Linked DNA regions of Homo sapiens: region 1 is linked to region 2. Evidence: fine-mapped expression QTL. A gene starts in region 2. The other region holds a variant in brackets. All regions are shown on one strand. Distances are between the middles of the regions.

Region 1 (5,369 bases), 49 kb before region 2:
GCGGAAGGTGGAAGGAAGGTGGAAGACAGAAGGTGGAAGGCGGAAGGCGGAAGGTGGAAGCTCGAAGGTGGAAGAAGGTGGAAGGTGGAAGGTCGAAGGTGGAAGAAGGTCGAAGGTGGAAGGCGGAAGGTGGAAGGTGGAAGAAGGTCGAAGGCGGAAGGTGGAAGGTGGAAGGAAGGTAGAAGGTGGAAGGTGGAAGGTGGAAGAAGGTGGAAGGTGGAAGGTGGAAGGTGGAAGAAGGTGGAAGAAGGTGGAAGGTGGAAGAAGGTGGAAGGTGGAAGGTGGAAGAAGGTGGAAGGTGGAAGGTGGAAGGAAGGTGGAAGACAGAAGGTGGAAGGCGGAAGGCGGAAGGTTGAAGGTGGAAGGTGGAAGGTGGAAGGAAGGTGGAAGGTGGAAGGCAGAAGGCGGAAGGTGGAAGGTGGAAGGTCGAAGGTGGAAGAAGGTCGAAGGTGGAAGGCGGAAGGCAGAAGGCGGAAGGTGGAAGGTGGATGGTGGAAGGTACCAAAAAAAACAAAAAACAAAAATTAGCCGAGCGTGGTGGCACACGCCTGTAGTTCAGCTGCTCAGGAGGCAGAGGTGGGAGAATACCTTGAGCTTGGCAGGCAGAAATTGCAGTGAGCTGCCACTGCACTCCAGCCTGGGCACCAGAGTAAGACCCTGTCTCAAAAAAAAAAAAAAAAAAAAAAAAAAAAAAAAAAAAAAAAAAGAATAGGCAAATCCATAGAGACCAAAAGGAGAGTCGTGGTTCCAGTGCTGGAGGTGGGGAGAATTGGGAGTGACTGATAATGGGTGAGGTTCCTTTCTAGGGTGAGGAAAATGCTCTGGAATTAGGTAGTGGCAATGGTTGCACAGCCCTGTGGATATACCAGCACCAGTGAATCGAATACTCAGATGGGCACTGAGAATCTGAGGCTGGCCGACTTATAGCCTCTACTCCTCTTTCCACTTCAACATCTGGGGCTCTCCCTTCTCCCTACTTCCCAAAGCATCTCCACTCCCTGTTTAATTGTGACCATCCCTAGAGGGCTGGCAACAGGTTTCTTTCCAAAGCAGCTCTGCAGGGTTTGCCCCGCCCCTCCCTCTCATACCCAACCCCCTCCTCTTTGTACCCAGACCGTTTACTTATTAAACCAATTAAATTAAATGACTCACATTGCACCCTTGGGCATGAGGCGGGTAAACAGCTCACCAGAGTCTGACTTGCTCTTGAAAGGGCCCGTTTCCCTCCCAGCCCAGCCAACTCCCCTGACCAGCCCCCCAGCGTCCAACCCCCCCATGGAGTGTCTCTCAGGTCACAGTAGGAAGAGGATCGGGGGAGCTGCTAGCCCTTCCCATTGTGCTTTCTCACCCCAAGGAAGGCCACACCCCCTCAAAGAGTTGACACAATAGTCTTCTTATTCCACTGCTTACAAAGCCAGCAGGCAGCTAGCTCAGCATGGCAGAAATCATCTGGAGCCCTCTTGCCCGCCCCTTGCTGCTACATCTTACCCCTACAGCAGCACCAGCGCCATTTCTCTGGGTGCCCCATCCCTGTCAATGCCTGCTTTGAGCTGGATGCTCTGGAGTGTCATGCAGCTAACTAGGTTAGGCAACCTGGGTCCATCGCTCATCTTGCCTGGAGACGAAAGGGAATGGTTCCGATTATTTCTCCAGGCTCCAAGACCTGTGAGCTTTCAGTTCAATGAATGTGGACTGAACTCACTCGGCCATGGAAGGGAACAAAGGTATGCCAAACAAGGACTCAAGGAGGACACAGCAGGTCTCGTAGGGGCGAGTGGATAATTTTAGTGAAATGCAGCAAGGGATGAAACAGGGTATGTGTGGAATAGAGATGTCCTGGCCTCCTCTCTTTCTTGCTCCCACCACCCACAGCACACTTCTCTGCCTTGCTGAGCATGGCACTGGGTGGGGTCACACATTAACAAGTCTGGCAAGATCTTCCCTGGGCCACGCTTAGAATAACCCAGCTCCGCTCTCAGCACCTCCTTCCAAACACCACCTCGGAGGCATCCCTCCTGACAGTCTGGAATCCAGGAGGGAAGTGTGATTTGAGTCAGATCCTGTCCTGGAGTGGAACCGCATGCTCTTGCCACCC[C/G]CCTACCCAGGCATTTCCGGCTTTGTGTATTTATAAGACTCTCTTGAACTAGGTACCAGCAAATAGGAGCAGAGACCTGATTTAGGTCAATGAAATCTGCACTGGGGAGAGTAAAGACACCCTGAGAGCAAGTTGGTATTTTTTCTCCTATTCCGTATCCGGGTTTCAGTATCATTTAAATCCCCTAGAAAGCCTCCCTCTCTTCCCATTCAGTGTTGCTTCCCAAGTTTCTCCTGCCCTGGAAATCTCCTTTCCTCCTGTCCTCTCCACGCGCATGAGTTTCCTAAAGCACAGTGGCTCCAGGCCACCTTCTAATGTTCATTTATGATTAAACAGCTGCATTTTGCAGAGCACTTGTCAGCTGTTAACAAGCCCATCCATCCCCTCCTAGGCGGGATCTGAGCTCTCAAAGGGGGCTGGGGGTGGGGCGAAGGTACAGCAGTAGGTTAGTAGGTGCAGGTGTGCAGGGGTCCTCCGCCCCATCAGCTTCAGACACGTTGTCCATCATCTTTGAAGTGTTGGATGACAGGCAGTGATGGGGAAAGCAGTGTTGTCTGAGTGTGTCTGTCTTAGACACCTGCTGGGTAGGAAAAACCAGTAGAGTGTATCTCCACCACTCCTAAGTGGGGCACCTCCCCAGCAAGGCTGTTAAAGGTATGCGCCTCTGTCCAGGCATGAGTCACACGCTGTCCTGCCAACCTCACAAGGTGCATGAGAGGAAAAGACCCTGGTTCCCTGGCTCCTTACTGAAAAATAATTGTGTATGAAAGGCCTCCTGGGGCACTTTGTAGCATGAGACAAAGAGAGTTGTCTAGTTCTCCCTTACTTCGGCTGAAGTGGTAAGTCTGGGAGGGTCAGTCCTCAAAGTAGTATGTTTGTAATCTCTGCTTGGGCAAGAACAGCCTGGAGCTCTGCTGGAAGGGCCTGTGCAAATCAGAGGTCAGAGGGAAAAGGTAATGGGTGAAGTGTTGAACATGGGGTTTGGAATAGTGACAAATATTAAGTGAGAGGAATAAGGCCGATCGGAGGCTGTGCCCAATTCTGGGGGACATCTGCAGAGAACCAAACCTCGGGTATAATTTAAACATTAAAAAGCTGTTTTATTGCTTGAGACCATGAGTTTGAGACCAGCCTGGGCAATGTAGTAAGACCCTATCTCTATAACAAATTTTTAAAAATTAGCCAGGCATGGTGGCACACACCTGTAGTCCCAGGCACTCAAGAGCCTGAGGTGGGAAGATTGCTCAAGCCTGGGAGTTCGAAGCTGCAGTAAGCCATGATTGCATCACTGAACTCCAGCTTGGGTGGCCTGGGTGATGGAGCAAGACCCTGTCTAAAAAAAACAAAAGTAAGTTGTTTCAAAATATGCACTGGACCTTCTGAGGTAACAGAGACACCTTGAAGGATCTGGAAGCTTTCTCTTCATTAACGAATATGAATTGGATGTCCCCCTAGGGACAGGTCTGGGCTGGCAGGGCCAGCGGAAAAGACAGTAAGAGAAGACATTCTGTCTCCACTGGCTGTGGGACCTTGGGCCGAGTCATTTTTCAGATCTCTTCCAGTTACAATGGATGATCATGAGAAATTTCTTTCACAGGTTAGTATCAACGCTCTACTCAAGCACTCCTGACAGGTGTCCACCAAGCTACTACTGGATTTCCAGGGGCAGGTGTCCACCAAGCTACTACTGGATTTCCAGGGGCAGGTGTCCACCAAGCTACTACTGGATTTCCAGGGGCAGGTGTCCACCAAGGTACTACTGGATTTCCAGGGGCAGGTGTCCACCAAGCTACTACTGGATTTCCAGGGACAGACGTCCACCAAGCTACTACTGGATTTCCAGGGGCAGGAATGTTCCGCATGCCACAGTCACGGGCCCTACAGCTGGAATGCTGCTACCTAGTGCTTTTCTTTGGTAGGGCCTCCTAGAATAAGCCCTACCCTTTTGTGAGAAAGTGCTTCCACCACAGATGTAAACTCTTGTATGTAAACACAGAGCCACTCGCAGGGCGTAGGGTGTGGGGTGAGGGATGTAGGGTGGAGGGCGTGGGGTGAAGGGTCGCCACAACAGCAGTGCCCCAGGCCACGTGGCTCCTTTTCTCTGAGCTCTGTCAGGTCATTTACATCCATGTTCTCTGTTCCCACAGTGTCCAAATTCCAAGACAGTGGAAGCGTCTGTCTAATCCACCAGACAGCACCCAGGCCCAGTGACACTTCCAGACGGGGGCTCTGTGCCAAGGGCAGTGTAAAATGATGGGGTAAAGCCACTCAACAGAACACTGTGGTGAGTTAAAAGGGTGTGGAAGGCCACACACACTAACCCAGAAAGGTGTTCAAAACATATAGTTATGTGAAAAAAGGTTGCCATATATATCACAAAAGTGACACTATCAAAAAAACGCTTAAATCTGTCATGGCCAGTAGGAACTTAGGGAGACCCAATGACTACAGAGGTCTAGGAACAGAAAAGGGATATCTGAAAGGAATTCAGGATACAGTATGAACTTGAGTTAATAATAACATCCGATATTGGTTCATTAATCATGACAAATGTACCGGGGCTTAATGCAAGATGCCAATAATAGAGGAAACTGGGTGTGAGCAAAGTGAGAGCTCTCCAGACTACCTTTGCAATGTTGGGTAAATGAAAAACTATTCTAAAATTAAAAATTCATTTAAAAATGCACTTGGCCGGGCACGGTGGCTCACGCCTGTAATCCCAGCACTTCGGGAGGCCGAGGCGGGCGGATCACGAGGTCAGGAGATCGAGACCATCCTGGCTAACACGGTGAAACCCCGTCTCTACTAAAGATACAAAAAATTAGCCGGGCGTGGTGGTATGTGTCTGTAGTCCCAGCTACTCGGGAGGCTGAGGCAGGAGAATGGCGTGAACCCGGGAGGCGGAGCTTGCAGTGAGCCGAGACCGCGCCACTGCACTCCAGCCTGGGTGACAGAGTGAGACTCTGTCTCAAAAAAAATAAATAAAATAAAAAATAAATAAAAATGCACTTGTAAGTATAGGAGCCTCTATGTGTATGTGTACAGGCATCACAGAGGCATAGAAAACACTTAGAAGGCATATTGAATTTTTTATGGTGCTTACTTCTGTGAAAGCACCTTTTAATATTATATACCTTTGAATTTTAAAAAATAGAAATAAAATGTTTTTAAGTAGAAAAAAGAGATGGAAATGAAAATATAGGAAGATAACAGTTTTAAACTTCTCTGTATTTCATTGTCCCTGTGATTGAAAGAGCAGTGGGCTAGAAGTCAG
Region 2 (5,369 bases):
GTGAGGAGAGGGAGAAAGGGAGGTTACTGATTCCAAGGTCACAAAGCAACTGCCTTTCTCTCTGTTTTTAATTTGTGCACAAGATCCCACTGGCTAAACAAAATGATGGCTACACTGGGAGGAGGTGTCGCCTCCCAGGCCCCCACCCACACACACTCCAAAGGAGCTCATCCATTTGGGCCTGAGTGGCCATGGCGGGGGAGAATAGATTCACTCTCTGTCTTTCAGAAGGAAGAACAAGGCCCAGAGGAGGGAAGAATTCACTATGGGCGGCAGATTTTGGTCATCAGAGGAAGGGGCTCTGCTGCTTGGAGTCGTGGCCCCGGGGTGGAAGCTATGGCTTCCTGGTGATGTGCTGAGCTCTCTGGCCCTGGAAACGCTTGCGTGCAGATCAGTCTTCGTATCCAGACTGAAAGACACCTTGGAGATCATTTGGACCAAAGGCCTCATTTTCACCTGAGAAGCTGTCGTTTTTCCCTTGATTCCCCCGCTAGTTAGTGGCAGAGCCAGTCTCCTCTAACTCACAGCCGGAATGATTTCCATCACCACAGAAAGGTTAGGCCATAAATATACATTTCCAACCTGAACCAGCTCAGCGACTGTCCCTAGTAATTCTCTCTCTTTGGCCACAAGAGAAGGCACAGCACCACACCCAACTCTGGGTAGAGAAGCTGACACGACGACAGGTCAGAGTCAGAGTATCTTCTCAGCTGCTTGCTCAGCCACTCTGTCCGAGTTTCCCCAAAGCGGGAGGAAAGTGAAGGCATGGGAGGCCACGTGCCAGAACTTTGAACCTCGGCTCCCCGGGCTTGCGTTGGGCACCTGGTAGTAACGGGAGTTTCTCCATTTCTTTTCCCAACTATTACAGGATCTTTTACGGCCCCTGTCACTGTCAGTTTTACTTTGTTAGGCCCATCCACAGTACGTTGAAAACCACCTCGCACAGCCATACCTATTGATGTAAAAAGGCAAAGAGACCACGCTCTCCTGTTTTCCTAGGAGGAAACTGAGGCACGGAAATATTAAGTGGCTTTGGCTAAGTTAAAAACAGAAGTAGGAATCTACCTGCTGCCCGGTCCACTGTGCTGTCCATCATCTCCTTAAACTGGGGAGTTTGGTAGATTTGCTCAGGGTTCAGAAAAGTGGCAGAAGGGGCGGCCCGAACAGGAGAAAGAGGGCGCAGCGAGGAGGTGGGAGATTCAAAGAGCCGAGGACGGAGGCTGGGAGAGGAGCGACGTATGGGAAGCGGGGAAGAGACGGGACTCTCCGAGGTATGGTAAAAAAGAACCCCCCTAGAAGATGCAGCAGGAGAGGAAACGGAGTGAGCCAAACAGAAGGCGGTGGGCAAAGTTTGGGCTGCGCGGACTGGAGCGCGCGCCTGGGTGTGGACGGCCGAGGGCATCCCGCACCCGAATCCCTAGCTCGCGCGTGGACCCCACGGACCTCCTCCCCGGGAACCGCAAGCCCGGAGCGGCTGGAGGGGCCCGGTCTCCGCCAGCGTCTCGGCGGGACGGGCGGGGAGCCTCTCTCCGGGTCGCTCTCCGAGGGGAGACGCGAGGAGCCCCCAGGGTGCCCCGGACCCACGTGGCCGGCGGGCAGGCCCGGGCTCGGGAATTCTGCGCTCGGCCCCGCGGCTTCCCCCGCCCGCAGCTCTCCCCGAGTACGCGCGGGGCGACGCCGGGCACCTGAGGGAGAAATGGGTGGGAAATCGGGTCTGAGGATGGGATGAGAGGCGGGTCCCCCCAACGCAGGAGCCGCCGCCGCCGCCCACCCCCGCGCCCTTCGCCTCCCCTGGGTGCTACTTACTCCGGTTCAGGGGGTTCCCGCCGACCTGGGCCGACGCCACCAGTTCCAGATACAGAGTCCAGAGCCCCACAGACACCACGGCGAGCGCCAGCAGCAGCCGGAAGCGCCTCCGCAGCAGCTTCACCGGGCGCAGGAGCAGCGGGGGCCGCGCGGCCCGGGGGCTCCCCATGGCGCTGCGCCGAGGCGGCCGCCGCCAGCGCGGGCTCCAACCCCCCGAGCCGCCGCCCCCCGGCCGGGCCCCGCGCCCAGGGCGCCCCGCGTCCCGGCCCAGCGTCTCAGGGCTGCGCCGAGGCCGTCTCTCCCGGCCGCTCTCCGGCGGGGCTCGGGCTCATGCTCCGGGCGCGAGGGGTCTCCGGGCTGCGCGGGCGCCCAGCAGGTCTCTCCGGGAGCCGAGCCCGGCTCCTCCTCCGCGCGTGTGTTCCGCGCCGGGCTCTCCTCCCCACGCCTCTCCCGTCGCAGGCTCGCTGCCGCCCTCCCTCCCTGCGCGCCCGCCCTCACTCGCTGCCCAGAAGGAGGCTTCCCCGGCGCCCGCCCGCCTGCCTCCGCCCGCGCCCCCGCCAGCCCCGGACCGGGCTCCGGGCTCTGGGCTCTCCTGCTCGCGGAACCTGGCCCGCCCCCGGCCCCGCCCCCGCCCCCGCCCCGGGCACAGGTGGGCTCCGCCCCCGAGAAGCCAGGGACGCGAAGAGGCCATTCGGCTTCCCTAGGGGAGCGAGAGGTGGGGCCAGAGAACTGGTGCCTGGTGCCTCCCCCGACTGGGAACGGGTGGGATGAGGAGGGGGCGAGTGATGATGCGGACTCTGGGTGACCGAGGGAAACCGAGTCACCACCCAGGCGCCTAACGGTGTGGTTTTAGGCAGAAGCGAAGTAGAGGCTGGTTTGGGCGACGCCCAAGGCTTTAGCCTCAGAGCCTTTCGTCGCCAACAGCAACGACCCGACTCCCTGCTTGACGAAACCAGTAGGCGTGAAATATCACGGGAGCCACTGGACGCTTAACGCAGACATAGCTTCGTTTTCCAGTTGAGATTTGAAGACCTTTCTTCCCAGCCTGAACCACATCTCCGAGAGGCGCTGGGGAAGTCGTACAGCCCCCACGGTGAACCCCAGCAAGCAGTTTTCCCCAGACTGGGCTGGAATGGCTGTTTGAAGAGAGTAGGTGTTTGAGGGTTCCGAAAAAGAATTTTAAAAAGAAAAGAAAAGTATTCACTCTTAGAGTTGAAAAGATCAGCAAGATAAGCCAGGCACAGTGGCTCACGGCTGTCGTCCCAGCACTTTGAGAGGCTGAGGCAAGAGGATCTCTTGATCTCTGGAGGTCAAGGCTGCAGTGAGCCGTGATTGCGTCAGTGCACTCCAGCCTGGGCAACACAGCAAGACCCTGTCTCAAAAAAAAAAAAATCAGTATTCCAGTCCTCTGCCTTCAGGCAGGTAAAGCATTATTATCTGATTTAAATTAGATAAAGTATCAAGGGGCAGAATAACTGCCCCAGGTCACTCAGCAAGTTATACTGCAGTTTTCTTTTCCATTATCTCTTCTGGGAAAAATGGTCAGGAGACTATGGGAAAAGTGAAGGATCAAAGTGTTCCTGGACATTTTAAAATCAAATGAATATCACACAAGTACTGTTCCAAGACAGAGGTTCTCACAGAATTGAGAACTATGTTTCCCTTCTCTCTGTTCTCACCTCAGTTGGATATTCAATAGTTTCTACAGGACTTTTCCTAATTAGCCTCCCCAACTCCAAGCTTCCCATCGCATCCTGTCCACTACCACCAGATGGTCTTCATAAAAAGCCAGGCATGGTGACACACACCTGTAGTCCTAACTTACTCGGGAGGCTGAGGTGGGAGGAGTGTAAGGTTGTAGTGAGCCACAATCATGCCACTGCACTCCAGCCTGGGTGACAGAGCAAGACCTTGTCTCAAAAAAAAAAAAAAAAAAAAAAAAATCCCGTATGTAGTCACACACCTGCTCAAAAATATTTAATGGCTTCCAATGCTTATTGATTAAGATACACACTGTAAATCCAGAATTCAGGGCCTTCCAGAACCTTTTCCAACTTTATGTGACCACATGAAACCTGCTCCAGCTAAAACGAGTTTATTCACTACCCTCCAACACATTTTCTTTTCTAGTTGGTCAACTTGTACCCTTTATCCAAGGTCCATTTCAGATTCTATAAAGCTTTCTTGGACCAGCCAAGTCCTAAGCAACTCCTTCCTTTCTGGAGCTTTAGTAGAACTTGCCATCTGTCTCACCATCTGATATGTTGGAACTTACTTGGAGTGTGTGAGTCTTGTTTTCCCAACCTCACTGTAAGGCTTCAAAAATGGGAGCTGCATTTCCAGTGGGTGGTACAATGTCCACTTAGCACTTAGGAAGGTTTGAGGATGGGGGTAGCACTTTGAGCAAACATCTTCCAGAACTTTCACTGCAGTTCTTTAGCAAAAAGGGTGAATCCAAAGGACAATTCTCTAATTGTAGCCCCTGGGAAAGGTCTCTGTGAAGTTCCAAAGCCACAGATTCCTGTACTTCTCATGTTCTTCTTTCTTTCCACAAGTCCAAGATAGGAGCAGCCAGTGTGTGCACGGCCTGTGCAAGCTCGGCTGAGTCAAGTGGGAAGTGACCGGGCCCTGTAAATAGAGTCCCTCTCTTACTAAGGGCAACCCAACTGGATTTTAGGTTGAGTCACTTTTAACACTTTGTCATGGAAACAGGTGGCAGCCTTGCCACAATTCTCTCCTCAAGACTGAGAAAGCTCATGCAATCACTTCGGTCAACCAAATGCTTGAAGCATCTATTATGTAGGAACTGGGAGAGATCTAAAACAAGAAGCATGCTGTTTAGTTGAGGAAAAAAGATAGTCCACAGGAAAAGAAATCTGACAGTTTAAAGGCCAAATTTATGGTCCAAAGAGATTAAGAAGAAGAAGGAGATCACCCTGTACCTCTTGATTTTTTATCCTCCTCTTATTTCTACTTTGTTTTTATAACTTGAGAAGATCATTACTTTTCCAGCTTATGGTGAGAGGTGCCAGGAGTCGAAGAGAAAAGAGGCCAGGACATTCTTGTGGCTCTCCTCTCTCCCTCTTCTGTTCCCTTCTCTTCTGTGGGTGACGCCTTGGCACTGAGATATCCCTCACATTCAGACCCCGCTTTCTCCACATCCCTTTTTGACTCCTGGTGATGTCACAGCAGGGGAAGATCTGAATTTTGAGACCCAAATTTCCCAAATAGCTGAGCTCCAGAACTAAGTATGTGGATTGAGGTATCATGGTGGCATAATATATTGTCACAAATGTCCATTCATTGTCAGTGTCAATTTGCCTGGCTACTCACCAGTTCTTCTGATGGTTTTCACTGTCCTTTCACCCTCCCACTTCAGCTACAGCACCTGACCCAGAATAGCCCAGGGTCACATTGTACAAATTGCACCCAAAAGGAAAAATATTTTCCACCATACACCTGCAATAATGGTAGAAGGGCCCGGTCTTTGCTTGGCCAGAATATCAGAGGCAGAGCAGGTCAAATCATAAAGTTTCTTCTCCCAAATTACAGAGGCATTGTAA

The links.
Region 1: its variant is fine-mapped to the expression of B4GALNT3 in lung (GTEx, PIP 0.93).

Annotation. Positions count from the first base shown.
Region 1 is chr12:506,351-511,719 of GRCh38, reverse strand. The region is part of intron 1 of B4GALNT3 (beta-1,4-N-acetyl-galactosaminyltransferase 3); the gene reads right to left. LOC124902852 (a long non-coding RNA gene) reads left to right here and starts at 3,550. Exons shown (of 3, transcript XR_007063150.1): 1 at 3,550-3,728; 2 at 3,765-3,872; 3 at 3,945-3,995. RefSeq lists enhancers at 292-938, 1,782-2,355. The variant C/G (reference allele first, on the strand shown) is at 2,096.
Region 2 is chr12:456,983-462,351 of GRCh38, reverse strand. It overlaps B4GALNT3 (beta-1,4-N-acetyl-galactosaminyltransferase 3), which reads right to left and starts at 2,413. Exons shown (of 20, transcript NM_173593.4): 1 at 1,807-2,413. The coding sequence starts at 1,975. RefSeq lists an enhancer at 2,262-3,245.